Linked DNA regions of Homo sapiens. The protein of the gene in region 2 interacts with the protein of the main gene of each other region in a pairwise test. Each region holds a gene or a part of one and is shown on either strand. Other genes may lie near its edges.

The links. Proteins that work in one complex are often made in the same cells at the same time.
Region 1: the proteins of FRMD6 (region 2) and GMCL1 interact in a two-hybrid assay, tested with the Homo sapiens proteins (one large-scale study listed by BioGRID).
Region 3: the proteins of FRMD6 (region 2) and TRIM55 interact in a two-hybrid assay, tested with the Homo sapiens proteins (one large-scale study listed by BioGRID and IntAct).

The regions. Positions count from the first base shown.
Region 1 is NC_000002.12:69,871,160-69,874,659, reverse strand, and holds part of GMCL1 (germ cell-less protein-like 1), read right to left. Parts: intron 2,916-3,500; coding exon 2,828-2,915; intron 1-2,827. UniProt on the Homo sapiens protein: Possible function in spermatogenesis. Enhances the degradation of MDM2 and increases the amount of p53 probably by modulating the nucleocytoplasmic transport.
Region 2 is NC_000014.9:51,653,787-51,659,260, reverse strand, and holds part of FRMD6 (FERM domain-containing protein 6), read right to left. Parts: intron 1,257-5,474; exon of another isoform or gene 1,181-1,256; intron 1-1,180.
Region 3 is NC_000008.11:66,133,629-66,137,128, reverse strand, and holds part of TRIM55 (tripartite motif-containing protein 55), read right to left. Parts: intron 2,140-3,500; coding exon 1,974-2,139; intron 35-1,973; coding exon 1-34. UniProt on the Homo sapiens protein: E3 ubiquitin ligase that plays an important role in regulating cardiac development and contractility, muscle growth, metabolism, and fiber-type differentiation.

The DNA of each region.
Region 1 (3,500 bases), on a different chromosome or scaffold from region 2:
AAAATTAAACAGGAACAATATAAGCTGTCAGTTTACATGAGATGATACGTTCAATAAGCATAAAAAAACCCAACAATACAGTAACCAAAGAAATGAAAATTGAAAATTAAGGGCCAGGCGCGGTGGCTCACACCTGTAATCCCAGCACTTTGGGAGGCCAAGGCAGGTGGATTACTTGAGGCCAGAAGTTCAAGACCAGCCTGGCTAACATGGTGAAATCCTGTCTCTACTAAAAATTAGTGCACTCCAGCCTGGGCGACAGAGCAAGACTCTGTCTCAAAACAAACAAACAAAAAGAAATGAAAATTAAAACAAATATTTGTTTTCACATTTACTACGCTGGGATAGAGATGAAAAAGAATAAGATACAATATTGGGTATACTCTCCTGTACTGCTGCCAGGGGGAAGTATAAATTGGACAGTAGCTTTGGAGGGCAATTTGGCCATTAGAAAATTGTATGCACCATGCAACAAGAATTCTACTTCTTGGAATTTATGCTTTAAAAATATCATAAAAATGGACAAAGATATATGTATATTTCCTATAGTAATGAAAAAAAATGAGAAACAACTTTATCCAATAAAGAGGAATTATCTAAGTTACGGTATAGCCAAAACAACTAATATTATGCCGTTCATAAAAATGATGCTGTGAATATATATTTATTGACCAAAAAAAGCTATGTACAACAAAGTGAAAAAAAAAAAAAAAGGTTACAATTACTACCTCACTGTCTGATGCACCTAGGCTCACCTGGCCTTGGGCTCTGAAAGAGGACCAAGCCTTTCTTCTACTGGGCCCAGGCCAGGTGACCCCATTTTGCCTCTCCCCCAGGCCTGACCACTATGCGACCAACAAGTTCTCCCAGGCCACTGACTTGGCCATGAAGAAGACAGAGGACAACAATGCACTTGTGTTCATTGTGGATGTCGAGGTCAAAAAGCATAAGATCAAACAGGCTGTGGAGGAGCTCTATGACACCAATGTGGCCAAGATCAACACCGTGATCAGGGCTGATGGAGAGAAGAAAGCCCATGTTCAGCTGGCTCCTGAGCATGCTGCTTTTAGAGGCTGCCAAAAAATTGGGATCATCTAAGTTGAATCCAGCTGGCAAATTCTAAATATATATGTTTTTCACCATTAAAAAAAAAAGCAGGTTACAAAATAGCTAACCTACTGTGATCCAATTTTGCAAAAATGATACAGGTGAAGGAAAAACTCAGCAATGTATCTGAGTGGTACATGTATGATTGTTGTTTCAGCTGACTCATATTTTCTATTTTTTCGACAACATCTATAACCTATATAAAACACGGAGACAACTCCCAAAGTAAATCTCCCAAACTCCATCCACAGCCCTCATGCCCTGGCTCTAGTTATACTGAACTCTTCCAACCATCTTTCAGTTCCTTGAATATGACCCATGTATTCCCTTGCTTCCGGAAATCTTACTCACCATTTGAGGCTTGGTTCAGGTATGCATTCACTTTAACACTTTTCCAGGAGAGGATGTTTTCCCTGAGCTGTCTTTCTTTCTCCTCCTCCTCCAATAACCACCCCCAACCACGGCAGCTGCTCAGTTACAGGTCAGAGTCTTCTCCCTCAAGGTTGCACACTCTGAGCTAATTCTATCATGCTACTTACACTAGGCTATATTAACACAAGCCTGTCTTTATTTCTTCTACTTCTAGCTGAGAACCAAGCACATGGTGGGGACACAAATGTTTGCTGAAGGAACATGGGAATACAACTATTATCTTGGCCTGGTGCTTTTTTAGGTCTCTGGCTGGGTTTGAGCCATGACAGTATTTTTCATGAAGTTTCAGGTAGAAGATAAAGATAGTCATTGTCTGTTCAGCTGCAGAGGTTACAAGAAGGACCAACAGAGAGTTCTGATGGAGGCAGATTTGGACTTTCTCATTATATACCTGCCTTGAAATGGACATTCCTACATATTACCTTTCATGTAAGATGGGGGTCAGTTAGAGTTTCAACAATGGGTGGATGACCCCCTCTGTAAGAATGCTGTTAAAAGAAGTTCTCATATAGGGCATGTGAGGTTACAATGATCACTTCCGGGGTTACTTGCAATGCTAAGGATGTTCTATGATAGTCTCTTCAGTCTGAGGAAAACTACTAACTTCTCATAATTTATGTAAACTATAACAGGCTTTGAATCCTTTAATAAAACATTATGCCCTTTGGAATGATGATTACTTTTAATAGAAATAAAGTTCCTCAATATTTTAACAGCTTTCAGTTTTACTTTTAAAAATGGTCTACTTTCTCATCATGACACTTTGAAACTTCTCCATGTGTGTGATGTATGAATAAATAAATGGCTTTGGAGATAATCTGGGGAACATTGCAGAGTTTGCCATCTTACGAACCTAATGGGCTAGAGAATAATGCTCTTATGATATTCGGAGCTATGGAGACATACAGGATTGTCTTTAAGATGCCTGCTGTGAATGTATAAATAAATGCACTATGTACACAATGGATAAAGCACTTAAGATTCCTAAAATTTTAGGAATGAATTTTAGTGCTGCTGATATTCAGGATAAACAATTATTTCCTTATAATCAGTGTTTCCCTGCCCCTCAAACAGTGTTTTCTTTTTTTCTCCTAATTATGCTTCCATTGGGATGGGGTCAATTATGCATAAGTGAATGTGGTACTTTCATCTTTACCTTCAAAAGACTTTTAAACCAACTTTTAGGTCAAAATGCCATCACTTTAATGTTAATTCTACTTAAGAATTTTCAAAAGAGGATTCAAAAGACAAATATTATGATGACATACCAGAAGATAATCGAACATACCTGATCCTTTTCAAGTGTAAGTATTTGATAGCCAGTTGTTCTACTACATATTAGTTTTCCACTACTATCAAAAGAAGCCAAACGTAATCTAGGATTAAAAAAAAAATAAAAAATAAACACAAGATTTTTAAACCACAGATTAAACAAGCTCTTCCTTACTTTCATATTTACTTTTTCCTCTGTTTTTTATTTGATAAAAGACTTTTAGGAAGTCTTTTCAAACTGTAATCTGACTGCATTCAGTGACAAGCCTGTGCTATTATACATATCTGGCCAAGAGAAATCATTTATAAATGTTTTTATTGTGGTAAAATATACGTAACATTTATCATTTTAACCATTTTAAAGTATATAGTTCTGTGGCATTAAATATATTTCCACATTGTTCTGCACCCATCTCTAGAACATTTTAATTTTCCCTCGCTGAAGCTCCTTACCCATTAAACACTAACTCCCCACTTTCCCTTCCCTCAGGCCCTGGCAACCACCAGTGTATCCTCTGTACCTATGAATTTGTCTACTCTAGGTACTTCGTATGAGTGGAATCTTACAATATTTGTGCTTTGTGAGTGGCTTATTTCACTTGGCATGTCTTCCAGGTTCATCCATGTTTAGCATGTATGAGAATTTGCTTCCTTTTCAAGGCTAAATAATGTTCTATTTTATGTATATA
Region 2 (5,474 bases):
AATAAGAACAATCCTGTGGGATAGCTATTATAACTATCTCCCACTTTACTGATGAGGAAAAAGAGGTGTAGAGAGTTAAGTAACTTCCCCAAGGTTACACATGGGAGAATACTGGAGTCTGGATTTGGGCCCCAGGGAACTGATCTCGAAGACCTCATTCCTATCATTATATTTTACTATCCCTCTTCTATGCTGTCTTCAATACGGATTACGCTATTCTGTAGTAATTTCATGAGCAACTTGTCAGAGCTGTGGCCCTATGGTCAGCATATTTTTTACTTGTTAACATTACATATGCTAAATTTTTGCTGTGATAAGCAGTATCTTATTCGGGTAGGATATATAAATACCACATATTTATAAAATTCTCTAATTTTAACTTCTCTTCACCTTTTTAATGAGCTTAAGCTGAAGCTCTGAGTCTTTTCTTAAGTAATAAAACTGTCCTTTATTCTTTAGGGAAACATAAAATAAAATGTATACATGAATAGTTTTCCTTTGCAAGCACTTTGTTTTATCTGTTAGATCTCTCAGTGAAATCATAATCTTATGTTTTACAATAAGTACTTCCTGGAGACTGCCACAGATTTTAGCGTCAGAATTTCACTGCTGCTCTCAGTAGACAAAGATTGGATGTTTCCAGGGATCTTTAAGAAACGATAACTGGATGGGGGTGGAAGGAAGACACAAAAAGGGAGAAAAGAGGGAGAAGCATAAAGGCAGGAGAAGTCCAAAAACTGAATTTTTGAAACATTTTCTTAAGGATGAATTATTCCAAAAATATTGACAAAGCAGTCCTTTGAAATTAGGGTCCATCCTAGATCATTTATGGATCAACAAGAGTGAATCAAGAGGGACCTCAAGAGATCTCCTACTTGATACTTACAACCCAAAGTCTCATTAGGAAGCCCTAGAAGTGAGAGAGAGAGAGAAAAAAGGGAAAAGGCAAGCCCCAACAGAGCTCTGTATGGAGGGCAGAGGTACAGCAGGCTGAAAGAAGAAAAATTCTGCCTCATTGGGCTACAGATCCATTTCCTCTGGGCAGATCTGAGTCTATCTGAACAGAGCCATAGAATACCTTTGCATTAATCAGAAAAGGGCACCCATCCTCCAGGCAGTGAGCCCCCCAATGGACTCACTTGCTTGGACTACATAGTAGGGAGCTGGTTTTCAGACCCACCTTGCATGGCAAAACCTGCACAGCTACAGTTGGTAGCCCTGATCTTGCCTTCTCTCTCTCCAACAAGCATGTGGCACTAGAGGAGACAAGATTGAGAGTCAGAGCAGCTTCTACTACTGGCGCTGTCATCAGCTGTGAGACTCTGTATGAATCATTCAACCTCTGCCTCCATCTCTGAAAAATGATGGGGCTGGCTAGATGTCACCTAAGGCCTCCTTCCTCTTACCAATTCTCAATTGAAATCTGGTGATATCTAGTTGGTATATTCCAAACTATATCCTTAGGATACAGTGGCTGAGTGGAACCTTTAAAGTTTTCTTAAGATTGCTTTTTTTCCTCTCACATCTTACCTCTAACGTTACTTTTTCTCTTTTAATTTTAAGACCATACTCTGCTTTCAACCCCAAAGTGCTCAACATTTTTTAGAGCCATCAAAAGGTCACCTACCATGTACTGTCCTCAAACTACCCAAATATCCACCAACAAAATGGATAAAGAAACTGGGCATATTCATTCACAGAAATAACAGAAAAAAGACCTATTGCGACCTACATCAATTTGGATATATCACATGACATTATGCTGAGCTAAAGATGACCAAAAAATGTGTATTTTATTGCATTTAAATGCAGTCCAAAAACAGTTTAAAACTAACCATGACAATAAAAGTCAGCATAATGGTTATCCTGGGGGCAAAGATGATGACTGTAAAGAGAGGCTGGTAATGTTCTGCTTCTTGATTTGGATGCTAGTTGCCCAAATGTGATCATTTTGTGCTGTACACTCCTGATCTGTGCATTTGTCTGGTTGTGTATAATTCAGTAACAAGTTCAAAGAAATAAAGCTACAGGGACCAAAAAAAAAAGTCATCTACTGAAACTGTACACACAAGTGCTACTACCTGTGGGGAGAAAATTAATTACATTTTATTTAACCCAATCAGAGAGAAAAATCATCTGAAAAGCTAAGTGAGAAACTTCATTATATTTCCTAAAATATGCATCAAGAAATTGCTTAATTTTTTTAAATGATTTCCTCCCTCACATGAAACTGTGGCTATAAATTAATTCAAAATATTGTTTTTCCCTCTGTCTTCATGTATCAGTAAAACATTATTGCTCAAAGTTGTATAAAACATGTACAAAGATAATGTTGTTGGAAAACATCTGAAAACACCCCCAAGAGGATCCATTTGGAATACTGAGAGTCTAAATAGATATTTTTGGTCAGAATTATCCCAATTATCAGCACATTAATGCAATGACCTGGATAATGACCAAATCTCTACCTAGTTTCTTGATATATCAATTTAACTCTGCTAAGACAAGACCATACAGCTGGGGAAAGACATTCAAGAAAATGCCATGCTAGCCGGGCGCGGTGGCTCAAGCCTGTGATCTCAGCACTTTGGGAGGCCGAGGCGGGCAGATCACAAGGTCAGGAGTTTGAGATCAGCCTGGCCAACATGGTGAAACCTCATCTGTACTAAAAATACAAAAATTAGATGGGCGTGGTGGCAGGCACCTATAATCCCAGCTACTCGGGAGGCTGAGGCAGGAGAATCATTTGGACCCGGGAGGTGGAGGCTGCAGTGAGCTGAGATCAGGCCATTGCACTCCAGCCTGGGCGACAGGGCGAGACTCCGCCTCAGAAAAAAAAAAAAGAAAAGAAAATGCTATGCTACAGACCACTCCAAGGAAGCTCCAGGAAAACACTGCCTTCTCCTTGCGACTGTATTTGGTTCATCTGTGAATTTGTTTCAGCACATTTTTCTCTTCTTGACTTGAAGCAATACAATCAGCTGAGAGATCAATGATTTCTTTCCCCTTCTCAGTGTTCTGTAATTCATCTTTGATCAATATGGTATATATACTGCATGACTGCTCTGTTCCATTTGATATATACAAAAAGTGATCATACACAAACTTGCATCAGAAGTAATTACATCACTAAATCGCATAAAGTAATGAGAAGCACAGATTGCTTGTTTCTACCTAAAACTTCATAATAACTTCAGCCATTACTGCTGTAGAGCCCCCTCTGGTCCCACAGCATGGGAAGTAGACATTAGTAGTTTCCTCAAATGTTGGGGGACTAATTAAATATTTGTAGAATCATTAGCACTTAAACAAAAAATGTTTCCAGTCTTTGAAATGGGAAGTGGCTTTTGGAGTGTACGGGATACAGTTATAAGCATCCAGTCCCTGCACATTATTTAACACCAAACTAGTGATTCAACACAAAGACAGGCAAAATTTCCAGGATAACTATCAATTAGCAGTCCTATTTCAAGTTTGTATACAGATCTTATAGGGCACCTTGATTCTAATCATTCTGATCCTTTTTTCTCAGCTAAAAATACCTTATTCTTTAATCTACACTTCTAAACAGTAAGTTCTCTCTACTTCAGCCTTGTTTTAAATACTTATCCTTCTAACTTTTTCCTTGCAATTCAATGTCCAGTATTCCACTTCCTCGTTCCTCTCAAATTATCCCTTTAACTTGTTTCTACTTACTTTTAAAGGCCCCCAAAGCCTCTTCCTCAGGATAATGTGCAATTCAGAAAGCCCTCTCAACTACCCTCTGTATAAAAGTTTAACCACAGAGACCAACGATAACATTTTTCCTGTTTGGGTTTTGGGGAACATACATTATAACTGAAATTTCACTACTCATAAAACTCCTTCACTAAATCTTTCCCATTCCCCTCTCCTAACTCTCCATTGTTTTATACACAATCACGACATAAACACACTCCCAAAATGTGTAATGATATAATCATACAAAGACTTTCTAAAAATACATAATTTTAATGTGTGCAACAAACAGCCTTTATAACTCTAGTACTGGGAGTACACGTTTAAAAACATACTGACTTTTTAATAAACTGTGTTTGTTTTTCCTCGTTGGGGGTGGGGAGGAGGTAGGGGATCATCAAACAAGGACCAATTGCTATACCTGAATCCACAAACTGTGTTACAGTAGGATTCTATTGAGGATTGTAAACACACTTAAAACTTTTTTTTTTTTTTTTACTTTAAAAGAAGAAAGTTGAAATTGCAAAAATGAGAGCCAAAATTTCTATGCTTTACCCATAAGGATACACAAACTGAATACCTCCTGTTTTCCCACTTATGAAAGAAATATGCTTCATCTACCAAACTAGGGCATTTATGAGGTTTGTATTAATGAACAGAAAAATGCAAAAATGTACAAATGCAAAAAACTTTCTATCCTTTAGAAGACTTAATATTAAAATGATTTTAGGGAAAGCCCAAGAAATCTCATTCTCAACTCAGAAAACTACCTAAGGGATAATTTGTGAATGCCATCTGGGATCCAGGCAGTCCCATCCACAAAAGGGAAAACTTGTTGAGATCATCCAAATCTAAAATTCACATACATTTTTACATCTGGACTGAATTAATCTTTTCTTGGTACTGGCTTTCATGTAATAAAATAATTGTTTGCAGGTTTTATTTTTCTTAAAAAAAAAAAAACCCACAACTTTAGAAATCAAAATGTGCAACATCCAAATCGAAAACTACAAAGAATTCCTTTATCAAAAAAGTTAGTTGTGAGACAGGACTCATTTACACTCAACTCTGAACCTGACAGCTCAGTCAAAAACAATTATGTTTGAAACTTTCATTCCAAGCATCTGCCACAAAAGGCTACGCAGTCTATTACATCATAAGTTCAGAAAGCCAAAAGCTTTATAAGTATAGTTAAATGTGGAAACAAAATCCAAAAACTACAAAAAGACCCCCCCCCCAATTCAGCTAACCTAGTTCAGTAACAATTTTTTTTAAGAATTTGTAACTAAAAACCGCTACCTAGCACACTGGCATTTTGCTTTCAAAAGCAGCGTCTTCATCCAGGCCCATGCTGTTTTCAGGCGTTTTCCTGTACAGCCAGGAGCATCTTAAATCTCTAAGTTCAAATTATGTACTTAAAACTAGCAGCTTACCCTTGTTGCCCCCAAAAAGGAGATACTGGAAATAGGAAAGATTTCCTGCCCCTTAAAATGTCTTGAGTACTGCAAGAACTGCTGATTACTGTAGCCCATCAGTGTCAGATCTCAGAGATTCTTGCAAGCAACTCAAAGGGGGGAAAATTAGTTCATATTACAGTCAGTCTGCTTTCTGGAGAAGATGTCCTGCAGATAATTTGATATTAGATATCCCCTGGGGGACCCTTTTCATCTAATAATCCTACTAAATGTCCATTTTAATATGAAATATGAATCCAAAATGTTTACAAACATACTGGGAAAAGTATTCAAATGCCAGCT
Region 3 (3,500 bases), on a different chromosome or scaffold from region 2:
CCACGAGGATGGCGATGCCATCACTGAGCTCAGACTAATGAAGAGAAAACATGAACCCAATATCTTAGGGGTTTCCTAGCCACCCCGACTGTGAATTGGTCATAATATTGTCTTTACAGGTTCTTAATTTAGGATCCATGCAACCCCTAAGGACTAACAGGGAGGCCTGTGGACCTTCTGATATTGCAAGCAAACCTTTGTGTATGAATCCATTTGTGCAGGGAAAGGTTTCACAGTTTTCATCAGTCTTAATATTAAGATCAACATGTTCAAGCTAAAGAATTCTAAGTATTGTTTATAAATAGCATGGAGACCAATATGTGACTTCAGGGACCCAAATGGAATTATTTGCCTAGTGGAACTAAGGGTCAATTTTACTTGGGAAATGTGTATAGTAAATACTCATTTATTCAACAAATACTTATTATGGGCATAAGAATATAGTGTATACAGACACAAACACTCACACATTAGACTAAGTCATTACAAACTTCACACTGAAACAAAGAACTAGTTCTAGGGGAGAAATGTCAACTTTTAAATTCCTTTGCTCTTTTGACTTAGGAAGAGATTCTATTGTTCCTATTTACCCCCTTCCCAAGACTGGCTGATGGAGCCACCAGGAGCACTGGAGGGGCACTTGGGAGACCCATGCGCTTGGTCCAACTCTACCCCCAACTTCTCTGTGATGTTGGGCAAAACATATATTCAATTTTGACCCTAATTTTCTCACATTTAGAAGGAGAAGATTGGACCAGAACAGTGATTATAAAATATTTTAAAGCTGCAGAACCTTCTTCAAGTGAAAGCTAATATGGAGGTGAAGCTGCTTTGGCCAAACAGGAGCAAGGGTGAGGGTCCCACCAGTCTGTTCTTCTGTCCATCTCACATGAGTCTCCAGGCTCTGAAGGAAGGAGTGTGAAACAGCTACCATCCAGTTCTATTATGCTATGCTTTGGGGGAGGTGGGCAGAAGAGAAGGGGGAATAAATTGTAACTGGATTCAAAAATAAACAAATGTTGTGGATAATTTGCAAAATCTGTTTCTTTAGGACTTAGTGGCCACTAGCTGTAATTGGTGTTGCCCAAGAGTTTTGCTTCCAAATTTGATTTCAGCACTGATCTTCACAGTAAAACACTGATCAAATGTGGAACTGATGATTCTAAATGAAAGAAACTGAGTAGTGGAACTGCTCAAGTTCTCGGTGCCTGGAGTGGCTGCACCTATTGGAGTACCCAACTCCACTTTTATCTGTACCAGATGGATAAATTCTGACCTGCTCATGAATGAAACCAGGTTGGCAGGTTGGTAATGTGTAGAGGGAGACACTGTCTTTCTGTCTGCTCAGAATTAGGGGGCCATGGCTGAGGCCCTGGGGTCAGGGGGAGACACCACACTCAGAGGGGTTTTTAGGCAACTGGCCCTGGTGACAGGAGGGCCAGCACAAGTCTGTGTTTTAAAGCTGTTCTGTAACTGCATGTCATCAGTGTAACCCTCCCTCACTAAGAGTGCGGGATAAAAGGCATTGAGGAGGGCCAAAGAAATCTTTCATGGGTGGATGAAGGAAAGTATTCTGTGACTAGGGTAAAAAGCTGTCCTTTTCTTATCTGTAGTCTAAACTTCACATAAGCTGGAGCAGTTTGAGCTTTTGCTGGGTCCCCTAACATTGCTCATCATCAGCAACCTCCAAAGGGCACAAAAACAGGGATCGTGCCGTTCTGCACCACTTCCTGAACCTGGGCACCCCTGCCCTGTCTCGCCTGGTCCCCCACCGTCCAGGGAATTTGGTGTGTGCCTCGTGCACAACTGTGCACATGTCTTCCTGCAGACCTTGTGTGCCCTCCAGTGTCCCATGGCCCTGCGTGGCTTGGGCTTCCTCCTCCACCGCAGGGAGCCACTCACACTGGCCCCAGGAAGGCCCTAAGGTGTGGGGATGGGGAGGGGTTGCGGGAGGGAGGGAGCAGCTCTGTTACCTTCTGTCTCTGGAACACATGAGTGAGGGGAGCCACCTGGCAGTCTTTGTGTGCACCAAACACCTTGCACAGAGAGCAGGTGGGTACTTCGCAGTTCAGACAGTAGATGTTGATGCGCTCCTCTTCATGTTCCTCGCACATGGGCTGGTCGGATTTCTTTTCTGGCCTGGGAGGAGGTAGGCAGATAAATGTCCATCAGCTCTCACTGGGGCAATCTCATCAAGGCAGAGCTGATGTTGCTCTGCCTTGCAAATTCCTTCTCTTCCCTGTATGCCCAGCAATTCTATTCCAGAAGACCCCCAGGGGCCCTTTCACATGCTCAGAGCCCACCAAATTCAGCTTCCCTGCAGGTGTAGCAGGGGAGTGCTGGCAAATCTCTAACAACCTGCTTGGGGTAGGGACAGAGACGTGGAGATCCTGATTTGTACCATTTGCCCATTTCCATGGTGTATTTCCACATGGCCAATTTTAAGTTATTTAAGGTTTCAGAATCTGGTAGTGAAATTCCTGAAAGTAGAATATCGAACCCTGGTGAGCCATCAGGAACGTGGTCCAGCACTGTGTCTACATGCTCACAAGTTTCTCAAGGGACACTTTCCCATTATGGACCAAGAACAGGAAATTGTTGATGAACTAAAAGTCGAGTTTGCACCAGCTTTTAGGAGTAGCTAGATCGCCCCCCTCCAGCCTCTGGCCCCAGGAAAGACCCTTTTCACCTGAAGAAATGAGGATAGGTGTGGCTCACATGGAACCAAAATCTTCTGATTATTAATTCAAGTACTGGTTGGATGCAAATGTGTATGAGACGCAAGTGTGGGTGTACCTCCTTATATAAACCCCAGGAATTCTGATATATCCTATCTAATGACTGAGGCTGCTAATAGTTTTCAGAAGTATTCAAAAAATTCAAATCCAAATCCAGAAGCTTTCTTCAAATTTCCAAACACATAGTTATTTAGCAACATCTTAGATTTGGGACTACATTTTGTTTTGTTGCTATACAGATCCAATTTTTAAAAACTACAGGTTTTTATGAGCCATGAAATCAATTTAGGGAGCTATGATCTGCATTGTTAAAATAAAAATAGAATGGAATAGCAAATACTGTGAATTACATGTAGTAAAAATAAGTATTGCTGTTCGAAACTTTTGTTTCAGGTGTACGTGTGTATATATGTGACTGAAACAAAAGTATATGTGTGTTTGTGTGTGTGTGTGTGTTTGTGTATGTGTGTATATACATATGTGTGTGTATATATATCCGTCCATATATGTAAGTGGTCACAATGTAAAATGCACTTCCTACTGTAAATCATGAATACAAGTGTTTGAAACCCATCTTTTTTGATGTGTGGTATCTTGTAGCTGCAGACCCAGAACTCAGAGAAAGGCAGAGAACGTGCTGATGTGCCTCTGTAAGACGCTAATGTTCCTTTATAAGTTGCTAGGTGGACGTCAATTACTTGAGATTAGGCTAAACATTGGGAGAAGCCCTGGGTCTTGTAAGAAAATTGCACGGACTTCCAG